Regions from separate parts of the Homo sapiens genome. Here region 1 is linked to region 2. The links come from fine-mapping of genetic effects on gene expression. A gene starts in region 2. The other region holds a variant in brackets. All regions are shown on one strand. Distances are from middle to middle. Region 1 overlaps DGCR5 (DiGeorge syndrome critical region gene 5). Region 2 holds the start of PRODH (proline dehydrogenase 1).

Region 1 (11,718 bases), 44 kb after region 2:
TTCTAAGCCTCAGTCTTCCCATCTATAAAGGGGGTACTGTTCCCTGTTCTTCTCTACTGAGGTGAGGAGGAAGTGAGCTCCCATGCCGGGGGTGGGAATGGGTGGCCATCAGCACCTAGACCCCACCTGGCAGAGGGGCACGTGCAGGGCCTGCCGTGGCAGAACCGTGACCTGGATTTGGGTCCTGGCTCAGCCACCTGCTGGCAGTGTGACCTTGGGTGTGACAGGTCACCTCTCTGCCTCAGTCTTCCTCACCTGCACCATGGGCCAGTGGTCAGGGATTATCGGGGCACTTCCAGGCTGAGGCTGGGCGGAATTGGCCCGGCTTTCCCTGTGGAGTTCCGACTCTGGTGCTTCTGCCTCAGAATGCCCAGAACACCTCCCCACACCCCAACTCAGCAGAGTCCTCCTGGGACCTTTGCATGGCCAGCTGGCCCCTCACCCCATCCATTTGCAGAAGGGACAATAAAAGCCCCTAGTCAGGCAACTCAGGCCACAGGTGAGTGGAGAGGGGACAGGGCAGGGATGCTGCCCAGCTTGGGAGACCCTCCCATAGTACCTTCACTCCCTCCCTGCCCTCCCCCTGTTCCTCACCTGGGGGTCTGTGGAACCCCTGAGCCTCAGTTTCCCTGTGCCAGGGTCCTTCCACTGGGACTGGCAGAAACGTAGGTTTGCATGGAGTGAGAAGCAGGGGAGAGGTTGAGGGAGGGCCTGGCCCAGCAGGTCTCTGAAAGCCAGAGGGCTTGTGGAGGGTCTATGGAGGACACCCCCACAGGGGCTGGGGCCCTGGAAGGTGGGGGAAGGTCCTGTTGTCCTGGGAGGCTGGGGACTGGCCCACAGCCTGTGGAGGGGCTGGGGTTTGTTTGCTGTTGCTGTGAGTGACAGGCAGGCTGTGAGGGCCAGGGCATGTGGGACCGTGCCCTCCGCCTCCCTCTGCCCAAGGACAGTGCAGCCTTGTAGCACTGCCCTCTCCTCGTCCCTGCCCCAGCCTTGAATTCATGCTTTGTGGCACGGACGGCCCTGTGCAGCCGGTGCAACACCAGGAGGGTCCAGCTGGTGAGGACAGGACGGGTGGGAGGCAGAGGAGCCCTCCTGCTGTCCTGGGCCTGTGGCCCGGAACCTCTCACCGGGAGCCTTGGTCTGTGCACCTGGGAAAGGGGTCAAGAACAGGAAGCATACGGGGAGTTTCAGGATGACCTGGAAATGAACAAATGCATGTGTGAGCCAGGCGCCCTGCCCGGCCCTGGCACAGGGTTAGTGAGGGCTCCCGACGCTTGGCTACTGTCTGATCAATGAGGTTCATGCCGTCCCGCCCCCATTCTGGCAAGCCTGACCTCTGATCCCCAGGCTGGCCTGCCTGACCCTCTGCAGCCACCCAGGGCCTGGGCTTTGGGGTCTGCAGGAGCCGGCCTGGCTGCCTGCTGCCTCTGCAGCTGTGCAGATGCCCTCTCGGGGCCCTCTCTGCACCCCTCAGTGTCCCTGCTCTGCAGCCTGGCTGCACCCAGGCCAAGGTCACAGGCACCCTCCTCGAAGCCAGATCCCAGATGCTGCATTTGCCCCAACTGTCCGTTCACTTTCTCATTTGTTCATTCATTTGCTTGTTCGTTCCTAGCCTGTCAGATTCTCTTCTGAGCCAGGCAAATCAAGGGGTGCAATCCTTGGCATCGTGCATCTCTAGGATTAAATGCTTTAAAGGATAGGAGGTAACAGAGTGGCCCCGGGGAAGCCCGATCGGAGTGGCGGGCATGCTACCCCACCCTGCAAATCTCCCTGCACTGTCCCTGGGGCCCAGCTGGGTTCCCCACACCAGTTGTTCTGTGCTGCCGTTTCTTCTTTTATCGCTGTATTTTAAACACTTTGCACATCGGGAACTATTCTTGTGCATCGTGGGTTTTCTGGTGTGTGTGGAATCCCTTCCTGAGAATGCACCATCATTTATTTATCCAAACCTGCACCGGCCTCCTGCACTGCCTGCAGCCGTGGAGCTGGGCACCGGGAGATGCAGCTCTGCACACCCACCCCACCATGTCCTCAGCTGGCACCCACCAGGTCTAGGGGCTGGTCACGTGCCTCTCCCCTGATGCTTGAGCTGATTTCAGGGGACTCGGCAGCAGGGCCAGATCCCGCCCCTCCTAGCCAGCTGAGGCCTTTGACAACCGTGGGCTGGCCGGGTGGGTGATGGTGAGTGAGTAGAGTCTGGGCATCCATTTGTGCAGTGGGTGCCTTGGGGCCGCCTCTCCTCTCCCTCTTTCACACAGCCTCTGGTCTTGCCCGCTATGGCCTGCGGGGCCTCTTCTGCGGGGCAGCAGGGCAGCGGGGCATGGGGTAATGCTGACACTGTTCTGCAGCTGTGTCCTGTCCAATGGAGGCAACCCACGGCAGCCAGACCAGGAGGTGGAGAAGAAAGGCAGGGCTGTTGGCACACCTCGAGAGTGGCCTTAGGAGAGGCTGAGTGGGCACAGGCCAGGGTCCCCATGTAGTTCTACACAGGCCTGGCAGGCGGTAAGCCCCATTCAGGGCCCTGGCACATGGAGCCGGGCTGATCTGGGAGTGAAGTGTCAGGTGCTGACCCAGCCTCACTCAGAGCAGCCTGCCCTGGGCCCCCGGGTGCCTCTTGGCTCTCCAGTCGGCACCCTGGCATTCTTAGCTGGCTGTCACGGGTCACGGTCCATGGAGTTGAAATTCTTTGGAATGTTGGGGGTATCACATAAGGGCTTTGTGGTCAAATGTGGGACCTGCTGGAATAAATGGTGCTGATGGTGCTCCTTTCCCGCAGGGCATCTTGGGCTCTGTTTTGGAGAGGGGTGGGCAGCACCTTCTCTGAGAGGCACCCCTATGCGATGTACCTCAGGGCCTGGTGTGCCCAGGAACCTGTTTTGGGAAACAGTGGTTGAAGTGCCTCGGAGGACCAGAGGAGACCTGTGGGCCTCCAGCAAGTGCCCCAGGATGGGTAGACCCTGCCACACAAACCCCGCACCCACGGGGCGCCCAGTGGGTGGAGGGACCACTGCTTCCCCCAGCAGTTTGAGGCGATGTGCAAATTTAACCTTTGGATTTATGACTCAATTTCTTTGTAGCAAATGTCACGGGAAATGTCAGGCCAAGGCTGAGGCTGGGTGAGGGGCCCGTCGAGGAAGCGGGTAGGGCTAGGCAGGCTAGAGTACCGAGGAGGGGCTCAGGCCAGGGTGGGCTTCAGGCCCCTCACCTCCTCCTGGGAGCCTTCCTGGATTGTCCCTTGCTTGCCTGGATCCCCGGCACTGTGTCCTCAATTTGTCCCAGCTATCACAACCTTGTTGAGATGTTGCCTTTATTTGCCTTCTACCAGGGCCCAGATGAGGCCAGCTCGGGGACATGCCAGAAGTCCCCCATTCCCCAAGGCTGGGCAGCCATGGGATCAGCTTGTGCAGTGCCGGCTTGCTGTATGACCTTGGGCAGCTCCACCCTTCCTGGTCACCGTAGGCCTCTCTGCAGTCCACAGCTGGTGGCCAGAGGTGGTGTTCCCAGCTCAGTGCCTTCAAGAGTGGGAAAACGCCTAGAGTCCTCAGTATGTGGGGTGTGGGGCTCTGGAGGAAGTGGGTGGGGGCTGAATGCAGGGCTGGGGTTGCGGAGGGCTGGCCCTTGGTGGTCCCAGGGGCTAGAGCAGCCCCTGCACACAGCAGGTGCTCAGTAAAGACCAAAAGGCAGTGCGTGGATGTGGAAGGTGGAGGTGGATTCCAGCTGGGAGTCCACAGTCCCCAGTTACATGTCCCCCCTCCACCGCCACATGCCAGATGTCATTCCAAGGCCCCACGCTGGCCCGTCACCAGCTCTGCCCTGCCTCCCAGGCCCGGGCGGGTCAGGGAATGGTGACTGCCTCCTCCCTGCCGTGTGCCAGGCCTGTGCACTGGAGCAGGGGTTCAGGCTCCCTAGTGCTCTGCATCTCTCCTGCACACACAGCTCCCCACACTGCACACCTTAGGCCTCCAGATCCAGCCTGTCTGCTAGTGTCACATCCTCCGTACCCAATGTCCAAGCCCAGAGTCTCAGCCTCTTCCCTCGACCCATCCCCAAAAGCAAAATCAGTGTCAAACCTGCACCCTGTCTCCCGGTCCATCCCCTTTACTCCTCACTGAGGACCAGCCTCAGACCTGGCCTCTGTCCCCAGCCTGTGGCCACAGCTGGCCCCTGCAACCTCCCTGCCTCCTGGGTTCAAGCGATTCTCCTGCCTCAGCCTCCTGAGTAGCTGGGATTACAGGTGCCCACCACCAAGCTAATTTTTTTGTATTTTTAGTAGAGATGGGGTTTCACCATGTTGGCCAGGCTGGTCTTGAACTCTTGACCCCAAGTGATCCACCCACCTCAACCTCCCAGAGTGCTGGGATTACAAGCGTGAGCCACCGTGCCTGGCCTCTGAAGGACACTTTCAAGAGAATACACAAACAACAAATCAGGAGAAACTATTTGCAAATCATATATCTGGTAAAAGACTTATATCCTAAATATACAAATAATAACTCTCAAAACTCAATAATAAGAAAAAAACCTATTCACAAATTGGGCAAAATAATTGAACAGATGGTTCACCAAAGAAGACATTTTGTCAGCAAACAGGCACCTGAATAGATGCTCCACATCTTTAGTCATTATGGAAATGCAAAATAGAACCTCAGTGAGATAATATTTCACACCCACTAGGATGGCTGTAATTTAAAACAGAAAATATCAAGTGTTAGGAAGGATGTGGAGGAACTGGAACTCTCATACGCTGTTGGTGGGAATATAACATGATGCAACCACTTTGGAAAATAGTTTGGTAGTTTCTTAAAGAGTTAAATATGAACCTACCATATGACAGTCATTCCCCTCCTAGGTATTTACCCAAGATAAGTGGAAGCATTTGTCCAGACAAAGATTTGTATACAAAGGTTTATAGCAGCTTTATTCGTATAAGCAAAAACTGGAAATGACCCAGAAGTCTGTCCACATGTGAATGGATAAACAGGCTATGTGATATCAATACAGTGGAATTGACTTTTGACACATGCAACGTGGATGTGTATCATGGATGAATATCAAAGGATTTTAGACATGGATAAATATCAGAATGATTATGCTGAGTGAAAGAAGTCAGACAAAAAGGAGTACATACTGTATGTTTCTGTTTAGATTAAATTCCACAAGATGTAAACTAATCTACAGTGACAATATAGAAGAATGGTTGCCCGGGGCAGGGAAGGGCACGGGGAACCTTTTGGGGGTAACCACCTCAACTGTGGTCAGAGGTTCACAGGTACAAACATGTCAAAAGGTACCAAATTATACGTTTTAAATGGGTGCAATTTATGTCAATTACACCTCAACAGAGAAAAATACAATGCTTATTTTATGCAAAGGGTTATTTTGTAAAACTCTTTTGAGGAGGACCGTCCTGGTCAGCGGCCCTCACCATCGAGACTCTCCCTGCACATGGGTGCTGTGGTGACTCGGCCCCTGGGCTCACCCTCTGGTGCTGTGTGCACCTCAAGAGCAGGATGGAAAGGTCCCCTCCCCACAGCCTGGCTGTCAGACCCCCGGCACAGAGGTGCACCGTGCAGCCTCCCGTCATTTCCCATTTGCCTGCCCAAGCTCTCAGTGTCTGAGCTCTGTCCTCTTTCTGGAAGACAGCCAGGTTTAGTGTTGGGAGCAGGAGACCAGCATGGGCTAGCCCAGTCCCACCACCTGAACAGAGGGGCTGTGATCCTCCAAGCTACCCAGGGAAGGTGCCACCTGGGTGCACAGCTGGTCCCAATGGTCAGGCCTCCCCTTGACAGAGGGGCAGGGCCGTGTCATGGTCAGGGCCTGTGCTCTAAAGCCAGACTGAGGGTCAAAACCCAGCTGCCCCATTTACAAGCTTCACGGTCTCAGGAGTGTCACTCTGCACATCAGTTTCCTCATCTGTAAAACCGATCAGTGACATCTGCCTGGTTACCTGCTGGGGCAAGTGGGTGAGTTGAGTCCGATGAAGCACTTAGAACGGTGCCTGGTATGTGGCAGTGTACAGAGCATGGGGCAATCACTGCAGCCGACCTAGCTGGTGGCTCCAGTGGGCCTTAGTGCCCCAGGCATCTGAGGAGCCCACTCTTCAGCACTGCCCCCGAGTGGCTGCAGCACACACTCCCCCAGGACTCATTCAGCCCTCCCAAGGAGTGGGAAGCCTCCGGAACCTGGTGCTGTCCGAGGCACGACACGCAGGAAGCAGGGCAGGTGTCCTCCCTGGCCCCTCACCCTTCCTAGCCAGGCTGCAGCTGATCCGAGGTGGTTCCTTGATCCTGGAGTCTGAAGGGACATTGAGGGGCTACCTGTGCTCCAAACAGACCAGCCCGCTTCTCATCTGCTTCACACACAGGGGTTCTGGGTAAGATTTCACTTCATTTCTTTGAAACACCACTCTGCTGGGCCAGCCAAGTCCTGTAGACCCCATCACTTGTACCCCTTGACCTCAGCAACAGGACCAAGACCTGTAGACCCCACCACTTGCACCCCTTGACCTGAAAAACAGGACCACAACCTACACCCAGCC[G/A]TCCTCACCTGGACTATGAGGATGGTACTGCTCACTGGCTCCGGACAGCTGTGTGACTCCAGGGGAGCCAGCTGTGGTTGAGATCTCGGGGGTCTTGGTAAATCTGGTAAACTCCTTGTGCAGTTCTAGCGAGCCCAGTGTGAGGACTGCCTGTTGGCTGGGAACCGTAAATCTGCTTGGGTTTCATGAGAATCTTGCCCTGAGTGACCTCCAGCTGGGGAACTCACCCTCCATCTGCGCCAGGGAGAGCTTGGTCATTGTCTGCAGGGACCCAACTAATCAGGACGGGCTTCCACGAGGAGACAGATTTGAAAGTATGCTCTCTTCGGGAAGCAGTAGCTTTAAACTGGACTAGCTCTTATATAATGGGCACTGTGTCCCTAACGAAACCAAAATATGGTCCAATAATGGCTTCTTTGAGGGAAGCACAGGGCAGTTGGGTTGTCCAAAGCCTTCTTTGGAACTTCACAGGTTTAAAAGGTGATGGTTCAAGAGGCCCCAGTATTATTCAGCCATATAAAGGAATACATAAACAAAAATGTGGCCTAGCCATACAGTGGAATATTACTCAGCCATAAAAAAATAACATTCTAATACGTGCTACAACATGGAAGAACCTTGAAGCATGATCCTGAGTGAAAGAAGCCAGACACAAAAGGTCACATGTAATGTGATTCCACTCATATGAAATATCCAGAATAGGTCAATTCAAAGCGACGGAAGATACATTAGAGGTTGCCAGGGGCCAGGGAACAGGGAAATGGGGAGTGACTGCTAATGGGTTCTGCTTTAGGGTAATAAAAATGTTCTGGAATTAAACAGCAGTGATGATTGCACACCATTGTGAATGTACTAAAACCAATTAATTCTACCCTTTAAAGTGGTGGATCTTATGTGAATTATATCTCAATTGTATCTAAATAAATAATAATTTGTAAAGGCCTCAGGAGAGGAGCTGATAATCAGGACTTAATCCCTGACTTGGCACACTACCTGTCACCCAACTGTCTCCAGTCCTTCATACTCATCAGGAGCCTTGTGCAACATCACCTTTGCACTTGAGGCTTCCTCTGCTTAGAATGCTGATCTGCCTGCCCCAGCATGTCCCATGAGCCTGCCTGGCTCAGCTCAGTGACTCTCGGCTTCTGCTCTCCCCATTCCAGGTATCACAGCTTGTATTCTGCTTTCAGAAATCAGGTAGTCAATCTTGCTGGTGCCTAGGGGACTGGCATTCTGTCACATATAAAGAGTGGGTGACCGCCAGGTGCGGTGGCTCACACCTGTAATCCCAGCACTTTGGGAGGCTGAGGTGGGAGGATCACGAGGTCAGGAGATCGAGACCGTCCTGGCTAACACGGTGAAACCCCATCTCTACTAAAAATACAAAAAATTAGCTGGGCGTGGTGGCGGGTGCCTGTAGTCCCAGCTACTCAGGAGGCTGAGGCAGGAGAATGGCATGAACCCAGGAGAGCTAAGATCGCGCCACTGCACTCCAGCCTGGGCAACAGAGCAAGGCTCCATCTCAAAAAAAAAAAAAAAATGAGTGGGTGACCAGCATTAGAGCATCAGGGAACACCCTCACCCAGGCACTCACCTGTGGGATGAAGCCACAGCACATCACCATGTGGAAGCCAAACTTGGTCACATACTGAGGCTCAGCACCCTCACCTCTTCAGCCTGTTGACAGAGATCCTTGGCCTGAAGGAGCTGTTTGTCTTTCTCTTAAATGCCAGACCTCAGCAGAGCATCAGTACAAGCCTGGGCTGCACATGCTAGAATATGGGTGGTCTAAGGATGTACTACATACAGTAGCAATTAGTCAATATATGGATCTGCCAGGACACTCCTACCTGAAGCACACTGGACAGCAGGGTTGGGTATAAAAGGGGTTATTATTACCTCAAGCACACCAGACAAGAGGGCTGGGTATAAAAGGGGTCATGTGCCAATTCTACTAGCTTATCAGCTCCATCAAAATTCTTATTTAATAATGTCATTTTCATAATGTAGTGTAAAGGGAGATGGTATACAACTCAACCTATTATTGAAATGCCACCAAGAAGTACCATGAGCACCAATCTAGGGTAGACAATGTGGCTGGGTCAAGGTACCCAAAAGCAATCTGAACATACCCACTGTGTTCTCCTCCTTCAACTTCTCCCTGAGCTTCTGGTTGTAAAGGTGCAAATCTGCCATCTGGTCTCCAAGTTTTGATGCTTAACGGAGGAAAGAAGAAATGCCCCTAATTAAAATAACAAATAAAAAATAACATTATCCAGTTTGTTCCATTTTCAGAAATGTTTTAAATACATTAAAAACTACTCTGCACTCTTTAAAAAGTAAAAAATGAACCCCAGGCAATGACTCTTTTCCTATTTCTTTTTTTTTTCTTTTCTTTTTTGAGACGGGGTCTTGCTGTGTCATCCAGGCTGTAGTGCAGTAGCACAATCATGGCTCACTGCAGCCTTGACCTCCAGGCCTCAAGCAATCCTCCCACCTCAGCCTCACAACTAGCTGGGACAACATGCATGTGCCACCATTCCTTTTTTTTTTTTTTTTTTTTTAAGATATGGAGTCTCCCTATGTTGCCCAGCTGGTCTTGAACTCCTGAGCTCAGGCGATCTTCCTGCCTTGGCTCCCCAAAATACTGGGATTACAGGTGTGAACCACTATGCCTAGCCCTGGCAATGACGCTTTCCAAAATATAAAATTGTGTAATCACAAAGAGGAATTAAGCAGGTGAGCTTCAACAGAAGTCTTAGCAGGTACTAGGAATTAAAGGAGGAGTGCTGAAAAAGTAACAATAAGTGAAAATGCAGGGTCAGGCACAGTGGCACAGTGGCTCAGGCCTATAATCCCAGCACTTTGGGAGGCTGAGGTGGGAGGACTGCATGAGACCAGGAGCTGAAGACCAGCCTGGGCAACATAGTGAGATCCCATCTCTACAAAAAATTTAAAAATTAAAAAAAAAATAGCTATAAATTTTTTGTGAAAACCAATGTAAATCACATATAGGAAAAAGACTGGGACTGGGTGTGGTGGCTCACAACTGTAATCCCAGCACTTTGTGAGGCTGAAGGGGGTGGATCACTGAGGTCAGGAGTTTGAGGCCAGCCTGGCTAGCATGGTGAAACCCTGTCTCTACTAAAAATACAAAAATTAGCTGGTTGAGGTGGCCGGATACCTGTAATCCCAGCTACTCGGGAGGCTGAGGCAGGAGAATTGCTTGAACTTGGGAGGGGGAGGTTACAGTGAGCCAAGATCGTGCCATTGCACTCCAGCTTGGGTGACAGAGCAAGACTTTGTCTCAAAAAACAAGCAAACTGTCTGGGTGGGGTGGCTCACGCCTGTAATCCCAGCACTTTGGGAGGTTGAGGCAGGTGCATCATGAGGTCAGGAGATCGAGACCATCCTGGCTAACACGGTGAAATCCCGTCTCTACTAAAAATACAAAAGAGAAAAGAAAAAAAAATAGCTGGGCGTGGTGGTGGGCGCCTGTAGTCCTAGCTCTTAGGGAGGCTGAGGCAGGAGAATGGCATGAACCCAGGAGGCGGAGCTTGCAGTGAACCGAGATCGCGCCACTGCACTCCAGCCTGGGTGACAGTGAGACTCCAACTCAAAAAAAAAAAAAAAAAGAATTGCGTATTTGTTTGTTTTGAGACAGGGTCTCACTCTGTCATCCGGGAAGGAGTGCAGTGGCGCGATCTTGGCTCACTAGAGCCTCTGCCTCCTGGGTCCAAGCAATTCTCCTGCCTCAGCCCCGGAGTAGCTGGGATTACAGGTGTGTGCCACCACACCCTGCTGTGTTTTTGTATTTTTACTAGAGACGGGGTTTCACCATGTTGGCCAGGCTGATCAAGAACTCCTGGCCTCAAGTGATCCACCTTCCTCGGCCTCCCAAAGTGTAGGATTGCATGTTTAAAAAAAATCAAACCTCATGAATGAGACCAAAGCGTCTACTGGCGCACAGGAAAAGAACACCCTTTACTTGAAATTACCCCAGGGAAAACCCAGGCACAGCCTCCCCAGCCTGGCAGCCCCTGCCAGCCTGTACCTAGGGTGGGCGTGAGCGTCCACAGCTGGGAGAGCAGCCGGCACACCCCAGCCCTGCTCCCAGGGTGAGCCACGCATGCACCAGGCAGAGAACTCCTGGGCTTCCGGCTGCTAAGCCCCAGGGGCCCCAGCGTCACCTGCTCTCGTGCGTGGACTGAGCACCTACTGTGTGCAGGCCCTTCTCAGGGGTGGGAGGGAAGGAGTGGTCTCACCCTGCAGAGCTTTCAGGACAACTGAGGAAGTTTCCCAGGGTCCATGGGAAGTCTGAACCAAAAACTGCTTCCCAGTGAGTGGGACTCCTCACTTTGAGGGATTTGGGTTCTGAGCCAGTAGAGCAGGCAATGCAAGAGGATCCGATCCCACATCCAGGCTGCATGGCTCTGGGAGTCCTCCTGCCAGCACTCTCCACCAGGACCCCTGCTGCCCCTCAGAGCACCCCCCACCAGAGTATGCAGGGCCTCTTGAGCCCACTTGGGCCAGGAGGGCACCCAGGCCTGCCTTTCCCTGCCTGCCTGCTCTCAAGGGTTAAGCTAACTTTCTCCATTTGTGCTAACGTTTTCCATACATTCTTTATTTATTTAATTTTTTTTATTTTTTGAGACAGAATCTTGCTCTGTCGCCCAGGCTGGAGTGCAGTGTTACCGTCTCAATCTAGGCTCACTGCAACCTCTGCCTCCCGGGTTCGACTGATTGTCTTGCCTCAGCCTCCTGAGTAGCTGGGATTACAGGCCCGTGCCACCCCCCCGCCCCCACTGGCTAATTATTGTATTTTTTAGTAGAGACGGGGTTTCACCATGTTGGCCAGGCTGGTCTCAAACTCCTGATCCACCCACCTCAGCCTCCCAAAGTGCTGGGATTACAGGCATGAGCCACCACGCTTGGATTTCCATACATTCTGGCCATTGGGACGAGCTGTGCACCCAGGTGTCACATTCCCTGGGTAGCTTGGAGGATCACAGCCCCTCTGTTCAGGTGGTGGGACTGGGCTAGCCCATGCTGGTGTCCTGCTCCCAACACTAAACCTGGTTGTCTCATCCACGCAGGGCCCCCACAGGACCTCCAGTCCATGCAGGGCCCCCACGAGACCTTCTGGTCTGCACAGGGCCCCCAGAGACCAGGAAGGATCC
Region 2 (10,521 bases):
TTCAAAACAGCCAATCGCAAGGCAGGGGCTGGGCTCCCCTGGCCAATCCTCTCCAGGCAGCTGGCAGCCGACATGCTGAGGCAAGCCTCAGACATTCCGTTCCCAGGGCTGGAGGCCTCATGTGACTGCCTTTCCCTCCCCTTCCCAGGCCAGCCACCAGGGGAGGGGCAGGAACAACCACCAAGGCCTGACCAGGTCCACAGAGGGACTGTCCCAAGCCTTATGTGGGTCAGGCCCGGCTGCTGTCAGGGTGCAGGGGACCCAAATACATAGGAAGACATAGGGAGATCCCATCTTTACAAAAAAAAATTAAAACTTAGCCAGGTATGGTGGTGCGTGCCTGTGGTCCCAGCTACTTAGGGGGCTCAGATGGGAGGATCACTTGAGCCCAGAAGGTTGGCTGCAGTGAACAATGGCACCACTGCACTCTAGCCTGGGCAACAGAGCAAGACCCTACTTTAAAAAAACTGGTTGAAAGAAATCAAAACAAGAATAATATTTTGTGACACAAGAAAATTATATGAAATTCTAATTACTATGGCCCTACTGAGGCAGAGTGAAGCCGTTGTGGCAGGGAGGGTGTGGCCCGACTGAGAGTCTGTGCTACCTGGCTGTTTACACAAACTTGCTGACCTGATGGAGGAGGCTCTGCTACAGCCTCTCTTTTGCAGGGATTCCTGACCCGCAGGCAGGTCCCACTGCCCGACCCTTGCCTGGCCTCAGCCTGCCCTGCAGTTGTGGAACCTCCCAGGCCTGGCCCCTGCCCCATTGTCAGTGGAGAAGGGAATTGAAGCCAGGAGCAGTGTAGCAGGCCGGCCTGGAGTCAGCTCCTGGAGGCCACTAAGCTGATACAAGGCCCCTTCCCTGGGCAGTGAGTGTAGAGGGCAGTTGGTACCACCCTGACCCGCCCTCCTGGGCAGGGCATCAGGACAGAACAACAAGACCACGTTTCCCTCCACTTCCTGGAGCAGTCCCTGGCTCATGTGAGATCCAGGCGAGACCAACCATTCTTTGCAGAGTGCTTGGTTCATATGCTGGTGCCTGTGCTCCTCCAGGCGGTGGACTAGATAGGGCCAAGGGCCATTCTGTACTCTGCTTCCTCAGGCCTCACGCACACCAGGCCTCCCATGAAAGCCCAGAGCTGTCCACCGCATGAAACAAAAATGCAAGAACTCCAGGCAGAGCCCAGGAGGGTCATCGGTAGTTGGGCTGACCAAGCTCTCCTAGCCTTGGCCTCTGCCCAGCTGAGGCTGAAGCCCAGCAGCTGGATACATCCCACCTGCTCCCACTGGGTGCTCCAGGGTCATGATCAGAAAGCCCGCAGACACCGGGCAGGCCTTACTCCATCTCCTTGTGCTCTGCCTCCTCGGGGCTCAGGTCCTCCTCCACTCCATAGTCCAGGATGGCGCTGACACCGAAGGCCCTGTAGTGCCGAAGCAGGGGCTGGATGGACTCCTGGTCCTCCCCGGCTACAAAATGCCCATAGAAGGTCATCTTCATGAGCTTGTTGAATAGCCTCTGTCCTAGAAGTTTCCTGGAAACATACAGCAGCTGAAAGGCAAAGGGAAGCCGCTGTCCTGGGCTGCCTGAACTCTCCTTTCCCAGCAAGGCACCGCTGCTCATCCCCGACCACACTTCACCCCAGCCATGGGGCCTCGATATGGTCTCTTGGCGACTGGGCTTTCAGGGTCAGTTTCATGGTGAAGACCAGCTAAAGCCGCTTGCTTCTCCACCCTGTCCATCACTCCAGTTCCCATCCAGGGCAGAGAGACCACAGGAGGTGCTGCCTGCTTGGCCTGAGGACACTGTTCCCACCTGGACTCTGCCCCTTCAGGGCCCCACCCATGAGTCACTCCAGCAGCACACAGTGGGTGCCTGACCACTGCTTGGTGGATAAAAAGGAGAATGGCCAGCCTCCCTGGGGATGACAGCCGGCATTTTGAGACCATCCTCTGTATCCACACCTTGGTAGTTCTGCTGCGGAAGAGGAGGATCTAACTTGACTTTCTAGTACTTGAGTGCCCAGATTTTTCAATGTTTTGTTCCCTCTTATCCCAAGTCCCTTAAACAGTGTGACTGGCATGAGGCCAGCCCCCGAATGGATGCTAAATAACAAACGTGTGAAACTCAGGCTGAGTCTGCGCCCAGCTGGAGGGAGGCATGCCCTGGCAACAAGGACAATGAGCTAGATGACAGTCCACAGGGGCCTGTGAGATGACTCCCACCCCAGGACCCATGCGCTCTGCAGGGTCATCTGGGGCTGACCAGCCACTCTGACAGATGCTGCCCGGGAACTGTCTGTCTCCTCCAATCATATTTCACCACGTCGCTCATTCAGATGTCCCAAGCTGCCATGCACCAAGCACCTTTTATAGACTGGAAACAACCAAAGGAAACCGACCAGGATCTCACATCCTGGTGGTAAAGGAACCCCAAAGGGGAAGGAGGGACTCTGCCTATGACTCAGGACAGGGGGATGGGGCAGTGCCTGCAGGGTAGGGCAGGGGTGTTTACTAACCCAGATCCAGGAGTGGGGCTTGCCAAGGCGAGGAGATGGCATGGACAACTGTGGGAGCTCCAGCACGGGGGACAGCCAGGGCAGAAAGGACAGGGACAACGAGAGGCTACTTGGAGAGGAGGGCCGAGTGTGATGCTCAGAAGCACACCTCCGCGTTGTGTCTGCTGCCCCTGCCGACTCAGCCCCAACACAGGAAGAGCCTGGGGTTTCTCAAACCCAATGGATACTAGAACTCCTTTTATGTGGGGAGCATCTCTTGAGACCGTAGTTTCAGGAACAACTTCTAGTCTAAGCAAAACCATTAGCGAGTCAAACACTTACACCCAAGCCAGCCCTGAGCACCCACACGCCTGCCCACAGGCAGACATAGCCCCACAGCCTTACCCTGAACATTGGTGCCCCATGGAGACGCCTCCTGACCATCACCCCTGGGCACGCCATGGGGCAGCCCCAAGGACCAGGGTTTCCCAGGCACTCACCCCTGCCTTCCTGCAGCCTCCAAGCAGAATCTGACTTTAAGGCATTTTGTTCTTTTATCAAGAGGATTAGAAACTGGAAAATGAACAGGCTGACATGTTCTCCGTCTCCCACTGAGCCTGAGCCAGGCCTCATTCCTGCTGGCAGCACCCAGGGATAGTTGGGAGAACAGGATGGGTCTGAAACATATCAAAGATCACCCAAGTGGCAGGCGGGGCAGAACTGGGGACCTGAACACCATCACTGGGCTTATCCACATCCGCTCTGAGAGAACCATCAGAAAACAACAGGAGGGAGGGTGGGCAACTGTCGACTGCCGCACGGGGCCACGCAGTCTCCCTCTACCTAACTGCTCGCCTCCGCACGGCCAGCACTAAATGAAGGGGCGGGAGCCCAGGCTGCACTGACTCCAGGGATGCTTATTCACAAAGATGGGGGGCTGGGGGACTGGGCCCGGGCTGAGGGTGGAAGCTCCCTGCACAGGGCTGCAGAAGCACACAGGCAGGGCTGGCAAGTTTTTTATTTATTTATTTTTAGAGGCAGGGTCTCACTCCTGGGCTCAAGCGACACTCCTATCTCGGCCTCCAGAGTAGTTGGGACTACAGGCATGCACCACCACACTCAGCTAACTTTTATTTTTTCTTTTTTTTGAGGCAGAGTTTTGCTCTTGTTGCCCAGGCTGGAGTGCAGTAGCACAATCTCGGCTCACTGCAACCTCCACCTCCCAGGTTCAAGCGATTCTCCCGCCTCAGCCTCCCAAGTAGCAGAGATTACAGGCGCACACCACCATGCCCAGCTAATTTTTATATTTTTAGTAGAGATGGGGTTTCTCCATGTTGGCCAGGCTGGTCTCAAACTCCTGACTTCAGGTGATCCACCCGCCTCGGCCACCCAAAGTGCTGGGATGACAGGCATGAGCCACCGCACCTGGCCCCAGCTAACTTTTAAAAATATTTTGTAGAGACAGGGTTTCACGATGTTGCTCAGGCTGGTCTTGAACTCCTAGCCTTAAATGATCCTCCTGCCTTGACCTCCTTAAGTGCTAGAATTACAGGCATGAGCCACCATGCCTAGGCATGAGCCTAGGGCTTGTAATTTTAAAGCTGACTCCACAGCAAAGCAACCACTTTAACACCATCCTGGTGTCACTGATGTCCCCGCATGGCACTACCTGAGACCAGGGCAGCCCCACATCTTCTTCAGGTGAGGAGATCCTTCGAGGATTTAGAAACCTGCACCAGTAACACATACACTTGTACCCCCTGTGAAAGACTCAACCAAATGTGTGCAGAGTAACACTGGTAGAGCCGGTTCTCTCCCCTCCCCCCACTCAGGGAACCACTGTCACCACGGGTCCTGTCCCTTCTGTGAGGGCGCACACCCAACCTCAGTGCTGTTGTCATGGAAATCCTGGGACTTTCCTAAACCCTCCTCAATAAGTCTGGCTTTCAGGCAAGGGCGGGCCCCACTGCTGTCCCCATCCAAGGCAGCAGCTCAAAGATCAGCTACTACAACCTGACACGCCTGTGGCAGATGTGGCCTCACTGCCCGGGTGCCTCACAGACCTGTGCTGGCTCAGCAGAAGGAATCTCCCCACAGCCCAGAGGGTGAGGGAAGGAACTCCCCTCTGGCCCGCTCACAGGACCAGGTTCTAGTGAGCAGCTCACAAGCCCAGGACCTGGCCTCTGCCTTCTTCCAGTGCTGAGGCTGCCGACACCCATGGGACCACTAGCAAGACAACAGTACAGACCCCACTGAGGGACTTCCCAGGGCACAGGTGGGACCCTAGGGGAGCCTGGGAGAGGTCACCTCTGGATGCCCTGCCTCTTCCAGGTACTCACAGCACCATCCCTGAGCCCTGGCACTTGCCTCAAGAAGGCACCCAAGGGACAGCGGAGCCAACAGTTTCCTCCCACAGTCACGGAACAGCACCTGGCATTCCCCGCAGCAGACTGGGCACCAAACCCCACACCCAGCTCTGCTGGCTTCTCTGTGCAACAACTTGTCTTGAATCTAGACAAGAAACCTTAGGGCTGTGCCTACAGAAACCTGACCTGGTGCCTTCCTAGCCCCCTCCCCATCCCAGCCATGCTTAGGGCTGTGCCTACAGAAACCTGACCTGGTGCCTTCCTAGTCCCCACTCCATCCCGGCCACAAGGTGGGCATGGCTTCTGCACGACTGGCCCCAGCTGCCACCTAGCATGCCCGTCCTTGCCCTGGGCAGGGACCTGTGGCTGGCCACTCCCTCCCCTGGCATTTCTGCCCTGCTGCCTCCTCCTCCTATTGCAGCACCACCAGCACTGGCTCCTCTTTTGGGATGCCCCTTAGATGTGGGCACTCCCCAAAGCCTCCACATCGCCGTCCCTCACCTTGCCAGTTCCTCTACCTGGGATGTCCCTTCTCGCCCTCCTGTCTCCTTGGCCGGGGCTCTCTATGACCAAAACTTGACCTTAAGACATCCTTGTGTGCACACACAGCAATGCCCTCCCAGAGCCCTCCATCTGTCCAGTTCAGCTCCTTCTTCCTCCACCATCCTCCGCACTCCCGCCACCACGGGTCCTAGGCTGACCTTGGCGCTCCCCATGGGATTCGGGCCAACAGCATCTGACTCTGAGTTCGTGGATCCCTGCCCTCACCTCGCACCCGCCGAGGCCTCACCTAAGCTCAACTGTGGCTCGGTGCTTCTCATCTGACACCGTCCCCCGCCTTCCCCCGCCTCCTGTTGAGGCCAGGGGTGCAGCCCCCGACCTCTGTACAGTCTCACCTGAGAAATCAACACCACCAGATACCCTGGCGCCAAAAAGCGGAACCTTGCAAACTCTTCCCAGGGTCACCTGGAGATAACCGTCATCTCTAGTACCCCTAGGCTGATGCGGCTAAAACAGTGTTCTGCTTGTTGCCCCCCACCACCGCCACCAAAAGCCCTGACACTTTTTAAAGCTACCATGGGTGAGTTCAAAGCTGGGCGTTTGAGGGGCTTCCCATTTTTCCCCAACAGTGTTCTCAGAGTGGCCGTGTCTGGGAAGCTGCTGGGTCCCGGGGTTTGAATTCCGGGGTTCCAGGCTATGAGCCCTACACCAGGATTCTCTTGTCTCAACATGAAGAATACTCCATTTTAAATTCCAAGTGATAACTCTGTATTCCCACAAGTGGTATATATCGTAAATATGAAAACGACCATTGTTTTTAGTTGGTAGACATCGACAAATAGGAAAATTTGCGAGGTCCGAGAGGGACTGCAGGAAACGCCTCCCTTCCTGGCTTCCCTTGCTCCAGGAGATGCTTGGGAGGCACCCGTTTCAGGCCAGGAAGCTCCGTAAAGGCTCCCGGGACCGGCAGAAGCCCCCGCGCCCCCGCCTGCACCCCGCGCACCTGCTCGTGGCGCGCCAGCAGCGCGGGCCAGGCGCACAAGCGCAGCACCAGCAGGCTCCGCGCCAGCTCCCAGGTTCGCCGGCTGCGGTACGCCTCCTGCGCGTTGCCGAAGTCCACGGCGGGCACCGGCGGCCGCACTGCCGTGGCCGACCCACCTCCTGGCACGGCCGCTGGGCCCGCTGCGGGCTGCTCGCGGGAGGCCGGCGCCGTGGACAGCGGGACGAAGCGGGGAATGCAGGGGCGCAGCGCGGGCAGGGCGCGCCTCAGAGCCATGGCGGGACGGCGGTACCCGCCCGGGCCGCTTAAGTGTGCGCTGTTGGTCCCGCCCCGCCCCGCCCCGCCCCGCCCCGCCCCGCTCGGTCCCAGAGGCCTCACCCTATATTCCTGACAAATGCCAGACAAGGGCTTAGACTTCACAAGCACCCTGGCACTTCAGCTGCATGGTGGGGACCCTCTGCCGGCAGGGCTGAGGCCAAGGCCCACTGGCTTCTCAAAGCCTCTGCTCCTGCTCTCCGTGAAGACAGCAACAGAGTGAGACCCTGTCTCAAAACAAAAATTATGTATTTTCAGATAGCTTGAAGGAGAATATTGAGTGTTCGTAATGCAAAGAAATAATAAATGTTTGAGATGATAGGTATGCTAATTACCCTTATCTGATCACTATACACGTACAGAAACATCACTACGTACCCCACAAATATGTACAATTATTATGTGTCAACTAAAAAATAAAAATAGCCGGGTGTGGTGGCTCACGCCTGTAATCTCAGCACTTTGGGAGGCCGAGGCAGGAGGATCTTTTGAGCCCAGGAGTGCCAGAGCAGTCTGGGCAACATAGTAAGACCTCGTCTCTACAAAAAATAGAAAATTAACCAGGCATAGTGTTGCATGTCTGTAATCCCAGCTACTCAGGAGGCTGAGGTGAGGGGATTGCTTGAGCCCAGGAGGTTGAAGCTGCAGTGAGCTGATTGTGCCACTGAACTCCAGCCTGGGCAATGGAGGGAGACCCTGTCTCAAAAATAAAAGTGAATTTTTTTTTTTTGAGATGGAGTCTTGCTCTGTCTCCCAGGCTGGAGTGCAGTGGCATGATCTCAGCTCACTGCAACCTCTGCCTCCCGGGTTCACGCCATTCTCCCACCTCAGCCTCCAGAGTAGCTGGGACTACAGGCGCCTGCCAAGCCTGGCTAATTTTTTATGTTTTTAGTAGAGACGGGGTTTCACCGTGTTAGCCAGGATGGTCTTGATCTCCTGACCTTGTGATCCGCCCGCCTCCGCCTCCCAGAGTGCTGGGATTACAGGCGTGAGCCACCACGCCCGGTGAATTTTTTTTTTTAAAGAAAGATTCCGGACACAAACGGCCACAAGTTGTATGGTTCGTTTTATATGAAGAGTTCAGAATAGACAAATCGATAGAGACAGAAGTCACACGAAGACAAGCCCATAGTGGAGCCTGGTGAGTATGGCACTGGCAGTGGTGCCTGGAGGTGGAGGACGGGAGGAGTGGGAGGGGCTGCCAAGGCCCACGGAGTTTCTTTGGGGTCCGGAAATACTCTGGGGCTAGAGAGTGGTGATGTTTGCTCAACCTTGTGTATAGACTAAAAAACCATTCAATATCTCAATAAAGCTGTTATATTTTTTTAAAAAAGCAAAGTTCTAGCATTTGCTTCAAGGAAGCCTGTGGCCCTGCACAGAGGCAAAGGTGGGCAGGGGCTGCCAGGGGCAGGGCTGCAGAGAGGGCAGGGGGAGAAGCGAGGGGTGCAGGGATCACAGAGATCACCACTCACGTCCAGACCATAGCAGAGCAGGCCTAGCGCTGGGTGCCCAGGCCCACGGGAGAGCCCACCTGTGAGGGCACCTGTGGGAACAAGGCTGGCCTGAAAGTCACTGGCTCCATGTGACAATCAATGAAACAACCGAGTTTCACAGGAGCTCTGTAAATCCTAGGAAGCAGGTCTTAGGCTCAGCTGGGGACCCTTGGCAGGTGGCTACCCTGAGCCAGCTGATGGCTTTTTTTTTTTTTTTTTTTAAGAGACAGGGTCTCTCTCTGTTGCCCAAGCTGGAGTGCAGCCATGTGATCACAGCTCACTGTGGCCTTGAACTCCTGGTGTCTCATGTGTCCCTGTGAAGGGACCACCAACCAGCTTTGTATGAGCAACAAGGCTGTTTATTTCACCTGGGTGCAGGCAGGCTGAGTCCAAAAAAGGAGTCAGCAAAGGGTGGTGGGATTATCATTAGTTCTTACAGGTTTTGGGATAGGCAGTGGAGTTAAGAGCAATGTTCTGGGGGCAGGGGTGGATCTCACAAAGTACCTTCTCAAGGGTGGGGAGAATTACCAAGAACCTTCTTAAGGGTGGGGGAGATTATGAAGTACATTGATCAGTTAGGGTGGGGCAGAAACAAATCACAATGGTGGAATGTCATCAGTTAAGGCTATTTTCACTTCTTCTGTGGATCTTCAGTTGCTTCAGCCCATCTGGATGTATCCGTGCAGGTCACAAGGGATATGATGGCTTAGCTTGGGCTCAGAGGCCTGACACCTGGGCTCAAGTGATCCCCCTGCCTCAACCTCCCAAGTAGCTGGGACTACAGGCTGGACTGCACCTAGCTAATTTTTAAAAAATATTTTTTTGTGGAGACAGGGTCTGGCTGTGTTACCCAGTGTGGGGAAAAGCAAGAGAGATCAGATTGTTACTGTGTCTGTGTAGAAAGAAGTAGACATAGGAGACTCCATTTTGTTATGTGCTAAGAAAAATTCTTCTGCCTTGAGATTCTGTTAATCTATAACCTTACCCCCAACCCCGTGCTCTCTGAAACGTGTGCTGTGTCAACTCAGAGTTAAATGGATTAAGGGCGGTGCAGGATGTGCTTTGTTAAGCAGATGCTTGAAGGCAGCCTGCTCCTTAAGAGTCATCACCACTCCCTAATCTCAAGTACCCAGGGACACAAAAACTGCGGAAGGCCGCAGGGACCTCTGCCTAGGAAAGCCAGGTATTGTCCAAGGTTTCTCCCCATGTGATAGTCTGAAATATGGCCTCGTGGGAAGGGAAAGACCTGACCGTCCCCCAGCCCGACACCCGTAAAGGGTCTGTGCTGAGGAGAATTAGTAAAAGAGGAAGGAATGCCTCTTGCAGTTGAGACAAGAGGAAGGCATCTGTCTCCTGCCTGTCCCTGGGCAATGGAATGTCTCGGTATAAAACCCGATTGTATGCTCCATCTACTGAGATAGGGAAAAACCGCCTTAGGGCTGGAGGTGGGACCTGCGGGCAGCAATACTGCTTTGTAAAGCATTGAGATGTTTATGTGTATGCATATCTAAAAGCACAGCACTTAATCCTTTACATTGTCTATGATGCAAAGACCTTTGTTCACGTGTTTGTCTGCTGACCCTCTCCCCACAATTGTCTTGTGACCCTGACACATCCCCCTCTTCGAGAAACACCCACAAATGATGAATAAATACTAAGGGAACTCAGAGGCTGGCGGGATCCTCCATATGCTGAACGCTGGTTCCCCGGTTCCCCTTATTTCTTTCTCTATACTTTGTCTCTGTGTCTTTTTCTTTTCCAAATCTCTCGTCCCACCTTACGAGAAACACCCACAGGTGTGTAGGGGCAACCCACCCCTACATCTGGTGCCCAACATGGAGGCTTTTCTCTAGGGTGAAGGTACGCTCGAGCGTGGTCATTGAGGACAAGTCGACGAGAGATCCCGAGTACGTCTACAGTCAGCCTTACGGTAAGCTTGTGCGCTCGGAAGAAGCTAGGGTGATAATGGGGCAAACTAAAAGTAAAATTAAAAGTAAATATGCCTCTTATCTCAGCTTTATTAAAATTCTTTTAAAAAGAGGGGGAGTTAAAGTATCTACAAAAAATCTAATCAAGCTATTTCAAATAATAGAACAATTTTGCCCATGGTTTCCAGAACAAGGAACTTTAGATCTAAAAGATTGGAAAAGAATTGGTAAGGAACTAAAACAAGCAGGTAGGAAGGGTAATATCATTCCACTTACAGTATGGAATGATTGGGCCATTATTAAAGCAGCTTTAGAACCATTTCAAACAGAAGAAGATAGCGTTTCAGTTTCTGATGCCCCTGGAAGCTGTTTAATAGATTGTAATGAAAAGACAAGGAAAAAATCCCAGAAAGAAACGGAA

What was found. PIP is the estimated chance that this variant, and not a neighbour inherited with it, causes the effect.
Region 1: its variant is fine-mapped to the expression of PRODH in lung (TOPMed, PIP above 0.99).

Annotation. Positions count from the first base shown.
Region 1 is chr22:18,972,566-18,984,283 of GRCh38, forward strand. The region is part of intron 1 of DGCR5 (DiGeorge syndrome critical region gene 5); the gene reads left to right. Among named protein-coding and RNA genes, the nearest start is that of DGCR5, 8.0 kb to the left of the region's middle. The variant G/A (reference allele first, on the strand shown) is at 6,539.
Region 2 is chr22:18,929,648-18,940,168 of GRCh38, forward strand. It overlaps PRODH (proline dehydrogenase 1), which reads right to left and starts at 6,646. Exons shown (of 14, transcript NM_016335.6): 1 at 6,368-6,646; 2 at 1,343-1,551. The coding sequence starts at 6,640. It overlaps LOC122455341 (a long non-coding RNA gene), which reads left to right and starts at 6,776. Exons shown (of 4, transcript NR_173080.2): 1 at 6,776-7,001; 2 at 7,705-7,820; 3 at 10,026-10,102. RefSeq lists a cis regulatory region at 6,628-6,862, a promoter at 6,876-10,090, enhancers at 9,026-10,090, 9,049-9,343, 9,205-9,712 and a silencer at 9,049-9,343.